Regions from separate parts of the Homo sapiens genome. Here region 1 is linked to region 2. Evidence: fine-mapped expression QTL. A gene starts in region 2. The other region holds a variant in brackets. All regions are shown on one strand. Distances are from middle to middle.

Region 1 (2,897 bases), 430 kb before region 2:
AGAGAATGAAAAGGCAAGCCAAAGAGTTGGAGAATATATCTAATAAAGAACTCAAATCCAAAATATATAAAGAACTCAATCAATAAGAAAAAGGCAGACAACCCAATTAGTAATGGGCAAAAAGCTTGAACAGGAACTTTACATAGAGAAAATCTAAGGGCTGATAAGTAAACTGTGACCGACTTCATTGGTCATCAGGCTAAAACAATGGAAAGCCATAATAAGATAAGATACTATTACTCACTCACCAGGAAGGATTCAGTTAAAGACAGTAGTGCTCTCGAGGGCCTGGGGCAAGCCATGCTGTCAGCCAAGCTGTGGGCAGGTGTGCCTGGATCCCGGCTGCTCCCCTCTGTCAGGCTCAGCAGTCCCACCCCATGTGTGCATTCAGCAGAAATGCCCTCGTATGTTCTTCAAGAGAGATACACGAAGATGCTGGGTCACAGCAGCCAAAACCTGTCGGGTGTAACAGATAAAGGAACTACGTATATTTACCCCATGGAAGACGGTGCAGCCACAAGAATGAATGACCTATGGCAACGTGCTTTATGATGGGTGAATCTTACGAAATAGCGTTGCCAGATCTAGTAATACAACAGCAGAAAGCCCAGTTCAGTTAGAATTTCAGATAAACAAAAAACTCTTTTTAGTGCATGTCCCAAATGGGCAGCATTTGGAGTACACTTACAACTATTTCTAATGACATTTTAAAAGTACTTATTTGTTGTTTATCTGAAATTGAAATTTAACTGGGTGTCCTATATTTTATCTGGAGATTCTACACAAATATAACATCAGCAAACAAATCCTGCCACAAGAGAGTGTAGACTGAGAATTCCCATTTCCTCAGAGAAGCAGAGCAGGTGCGTGCCTCGGCCTATGGAGTCAGGATGGTGTCATGCGAGAGCCAGGGTGCCGGGGGCCTGGTTGGGGTTTCACTTCTAAATCTGGGTGCTATTCACATGGGTGGATTCAGCTTATGAAAGTTCTGCCCAGCTCTGCAAAGCGCACTTCCTCACAATAGCCATGGCTGTGCTGGAATGTCCCATGTGGGACTCAGACCACAGACACACCCGGAGCTTCTCGCAGCAGAGAGCAGCCCACAGTCGGCCTGTAGGAGCCTGCTCCAGGAGCTTCCTGCTCAGCATCACTGAATTAACTGCACCTTTGGGTCTCGGCCTCAATGCTTCTTCCTCCAGGAAGCCTTCCCGGCCTCAGCCAGGTGCCCTGCTGCACCCTCCTTCATGGCTTGCATTGTCTTTGGTTGCAGCTGTC[A/G]TTATTGTAGTTCAGTCATTGTTTGTATAAATGCTTGTTTATCATCTGCCTCACCCAACTGCAGGCTAAGTCCACAAGGGCAGGAGCATGCCTGCCTTCTTCCTCGTGTCCTGGTACCCAGCTCCTGCTGCATAGCCAGTGCCCAATGGTATTTGTGGAATGAAAGGATGAAGGTTTATGTGTAAACCAGCATGTATTTTTTCACTCCTTAGAGTTTTTATTCATGCAGCTAACACATGCCTAACAATTAGGGCTTTCTTCTTTTCAGCAAAAGTTTCCAGAATCTTGTTTTAAAAAAGAAACTGTACTAGAATCCCAGCCGGCCACCTTGAACACCGTTGTCCTGGCCGGCGAGACCGGAGCCTTGTTCCGTGGTGGAGGAGACGTGCTGGTGCCTTGAGAATTCAGTTGCAAGCATTCAGTGCCTGGCTGTTGTTCTGCTGGTGCAGACTCCAGGGTGCTGCGTCCACTCCTGGCCAAGGAGGCTGGTGTGGCTTTTGGGACCCTCACCCTTGGGTTTTGTCTTGATTCGTAGGGATTTGCTGCAGACGCTGACGGAGGAGGAGCTGCACACGCTGGAACGGAACCTCTGCATTTCCCAAGACGTGGAGTTCCCCATCCGCGCAGACGTGCAGGGACCCGCTGCCCTGGCGCCTGCCCTCTCTGCCCCTCTCCCCCCTGAGGGGCCACTCTCAGCTAAGGCCAAAGACCCGGATGCAGAGCTGGCCTGCTCCATGCAGTACGACGACCAGGAGCTGGAGCAGCTCAGCCGCATGGTCCACAGGGCGGGGGACGAGATGTCCTCTTTGCTTTCACCGCCCATTGCCTGCCAGTCCCCAGCTCACAGGCCAGGAGCGGAGGGCAGCCCAGGCGGGGAGGCCTCTCCAGGTAGACCGCGCCTGCGGTCAGGCAGTGACGAGGAGGAGCGCGTGTTCTTCATGGATGACGTGGAGGGGACGGCAGAAGCCCTGGCCAGGCCCGAGTCCCCAGCTGGCCCATTTGGGTGGGCAGGCAGTACCTGGGCCGACCCCCAGGAGAAAGGGCAGGGTGGGCCAGGCGGAGCGGCGGGGATCAGCTTGCCCGCCTCGGAAAAGGAGGAGGACTTGAGCAACAACAATCTCGAGGCCGAGGGCACAGATGGGGCCAGCCTCGCGGGCACCAGCTCCTGCAGCTGCCTGGACTCGCGGCTGCACCTGGACGGCTGGGAGGTGGGTGCGGATGACGCAGAGACGGCTGAGATGATCGCCCACCGGACAGGGGGCATGAAGCTCTCAGCCACGGTCATCTTCAACCCCAAATCGCCCACTTCCCTGGACTCTGCGGTCGCCACCCAGGAGGCCGCCTCGGAGCCCGTGGCCGAGGGGATGGATGGCGGCCCCCACAAGCTTAGCACTGGGGCCACCAACTGCCTTCTGCATTCCTGCGTGTGCTGTGGGAGCTGCGGGGACAGCAGGGAGGACGTGGTGGAGCGTCTGCGGGAGAAGTGCAGCCCGGGAGGCGTCATTGGTGCCTCGTACGCTGCCGGCTTAGCCAAGGCCAGCGACAGGGCCCCTGAGAGACAGGAGGAGGCGCCCCCACCCTCAGAAGATGCCTCCAACGGGCGGGAGCCCAAAGCCCCCACT
Region 2 (2,897 bases):
CTTAAAGCATGAGTCCTCTTCATCTCCATTTGGCAGTTTAGATTTGAACCACCATCAGTTGTGGGGAATGAGAGCACACATCAAGTACACAAGGAAAGGCTGTGCTCACAGAACTTGTTTGCTTTATGTTGTTGGCGTTCTGCTCTTTAAAATATTGTTGTTCTCATCACATTTAAATACGTAACTAGGGCACTTAAAACATTTTGGGAAAATTAAAAAGTTTAAGTCCCAAGTTCATAAATGGGATGGCTCCTAAGTTATTTTCCACGTTGATATTTGAAATACACAAAATAGAGTGAATATAACCCATGCGTGATGCTGGCGTTTAACTCATTTAAAAATCAAGGCTTGAAAGTCTGTGAAGCAGGTGGGTAGCACTGAAGAGCTGCTCCTGAGCCAGGCCTGAACTTTATCCAATTAGTCTTGTCTTCACAGGGTCTGCGCGCTCTCTCTCTCTCTCTCTCTCTCTCTCTCTCTCTCTCTCTCTCTCACACACACACACACACACACACACACAAAATACACGTTATCTACCTAAAAACGATTAACGTCACCACATCAGTTTTGATACTATGTTTCCACTTGAATGTCAAAGCCCATCGTGGGCACAGAAAGATTCGTGCTGCAATGGGTCCTATACAATACCCTCATCCATTTTATTTCTACCGAAACTTAAGACCAGCATTTTTTAAACGCCGAGATTTTAAACCACGGTTCCTGTGAGTGGAGCAAAACCAGCCATTAAGTCGCCAGGTCCCATCTCATGCACTGAGGCTTCAAGGACTATCAATCTGCATCCTGGGGCGAGGGGAACATCCCAGGCGGAGGCCCGGACGCCGAGGGCGCGCAGCCCCCCAGCAGGGTACCCACACCCGGCTCACCCCCGCCTCCACCTGCCAAGGGCCGGACCGCGGCCCGGCTTCCCGGGGGAGCGTCCGCGCTGACCAACGCCCGGGCGCCGCGAGTGTCAACGCCAGACACCGCCTGCAAACAAAAAGCGACCCTCGGCCCGACCCCTGGCCCCGGCGCCGGCCCCGGGACCCCAACCTGCCCCTCCCACCGCGGCCGCCCCGGACCGGGGGCGCCGCACAAAGGCCGGCCCGACCCGCTCGGCGCCGCGGGAACAAAGGCGGCCGCCTCGGCCGGGCCGGGCACAGGTGCAGCCGCAGGGCCCGGCCGGGCCCAACATGGCCGCGCCCGCCCGCCCGGCCCCGTTAGCCGCCGCCGCCCGCAGGCCGCCGCCCCTCCCCTGCCCGGACTCGTCCCGGCCTCCGCGGTCCGCCCGGTCCTCCCGCCGGCCCTCAGGCCTCCGCGGTCCTCGCGGTCCCCACGACCCTCTCAGGCCGCCCGGCCTCCCGGTCCCCCAGCCCCTGAGCCGGCCCCTCAGGCCTCCTCAGTGCCCCCACTCCTCCCGGCGCTCCCGCCCCCTCAGGCCTCCGCGGTCCTCCCCGCCGCCCCTCAGGCCTCCCACAGCCCGGCCTCCCGGCCCCAGCCCCGGCGGTTGGCGGCCCGCGACTGTTGGGCGGGCGCCCCAGTGACCTGCGGTGCGTCGCATCCTCGGCGGGCGGCTCTCCGGAGCGGCAGGCTGGGAGGGGGCCGGGGCCGTGCGGCGGTAGGGCCCAGGCGGGGAGGGGGCGGCGGCGGCGGCGGGCGCAGCGCGGCCAGGCCGAGGCTCTCGCGCGCGGCGCCGACCCCGCCCCCGCGCCTCCCGCCCGCCGCCGCCGCCGCAGCCGGGGCCGCCGCCGCCTCGCAGAAGCCGCGGGAAAAGTGCGCGCCGCTGATTGGCTGCCGCGCTCGCGGGGCCCGCGGACCGGGCTTTTCAAATCCGCGCCGGGGCCGCGCACGGGCGGGGCGGGCAGGCACGCGGCGGGTGGGGGCCGCGCGGGCGGGCGGGGCTGGCAGCGCCGGGAGGGCCGGGCCGCGGGCCCCGCGAGCCGCCTCAGAGTAGCGCCGGGCGCGCGCCCTGCTCCCGCTACTCGGCGGCGCGCACCCGGCCCAGACCCGGCGCCCGCGGGCGCCGCGCTCAGTGACGTCACGATCCGCGCCCAATCACCGTCCGGAGCCGGCGCCCCCGAGCCGTGGGCGCGCGGCCGCGGAGGCTGGCGTTGGGCGCGCGGCCCGCCCGCGCGGGTCCCCAAGCTCCTGTCCCGTGAGAGGGGCGCGGGGCCTGGGGCCCGCGGGAGGCTGCTAGCGGCGTCCGCCTCGCGGAGCGGCAGTGCGGGGACGGGTGGGGAAACCGCCGCAGAGGCCCCGCCGTGGCGGGCCCGGAGCCTCAGAACAGACGTGGCGGAGAGGGTCAGACGCCACGACGGGGCAGGGCAGGGCGTCGTGCTCTTCCCGCCTAACGGCCGCAGGGCGTGAACGAGTCCCCCGGGCGAGGGTCCGACCCGGAGCTGGGCGCGGCTGCGGGAGGACCGCTCGCGAGGGGAGGACGCCTGGTCCAGGGGCGCTACCCCAGCGCCGCTGCGGTAGAGCCGGGCTTCAGGGGGTGGCGCGGGCGACTGCGTGCGGCACAGGGAGGAGGAGGAAGCGGCGCGGGCGAGCGGGGAAGTCAGACGCTGCAAAAAGTGGGCGGGCCGGGCGGTTGAAGCCGGTGTGATTTGCTGCCCGCCGCCCATGGAAGTTCGGCTCCTGCCTCCAGGTGCTGCCGGAGCCGGCGGCCTTGGGTTTTCTGTCACGCAGGTTCAGGGAGCCGGGAACACCTTCGGCCTTGAGCCTTAGTGTCTGCTCGAGCTTTACAGGCCCAGCTTGAGCCCTCGCTGAGAAGCGGGCCCAGGGGAGCCTGGCGAGAGTTTGGTCAAGGAGAGCTTTGTGAAAGTGCGCTACCCGGGCTATAGAACGACACCTCAGCCCAGGTCCTGCCTCCCCGGACCCACCTCCAGCCACCAAGGAGTGGC

Which allele goes with the higher level. Positions count from the first base shown, and alleles are read on the strand shown. Sizes are in standard deviations (SD) of each study's normalised expression.
For the expression in sun-exposed skin of the gene that starts at base 1,689 in region 2, allele G in region 1 goes with a higher level than allele A (small effect, 0.14 SD a copy in GTEx).

Evidence for each region. PIP is the estimated chance that this variant, and not a neighbour inherited with it, causes the effect. A credible set is the group of variants that fine-mapping cannot tell apart.
Region 1: its variant is the best candidate, but not a certain one, in a credible set for the expression of NSD2 in sun-exposed skin (GTEx, PIP 0.60).

What each region holds. Positions count from the first base shown.
Region 1 is chr4:2,304,450-2,307,346 of GRCh38, reverse strand. ZFYVE28 (zinc finger FYVE-type containing 28) reads left to right here. Exons shown (of 13, transcript NM_020972.3): 8 at 1,811-2,897. Among named protein-coding and RNA genes, the nearest start is that of MXD4, 44 kb to the right of the region's middle. The variant A/G (reference allele first, on the strand shown) is at 1,276.
Region 2 is chr4:1,870,185-1,873,081 of GRCh38, reverse strand. NSD2 (nuclear receptor binding SET domain protein 2) reads right to left here and starts at 1,689. Exons shown (of 22, transcript NM_001042424.3): 1 at 1,540-1,689. RefSeq lists silencers at 1,256-1,955, 2,006-2,235, 2,266-2,525 and an enhancer at 2,259-2,760.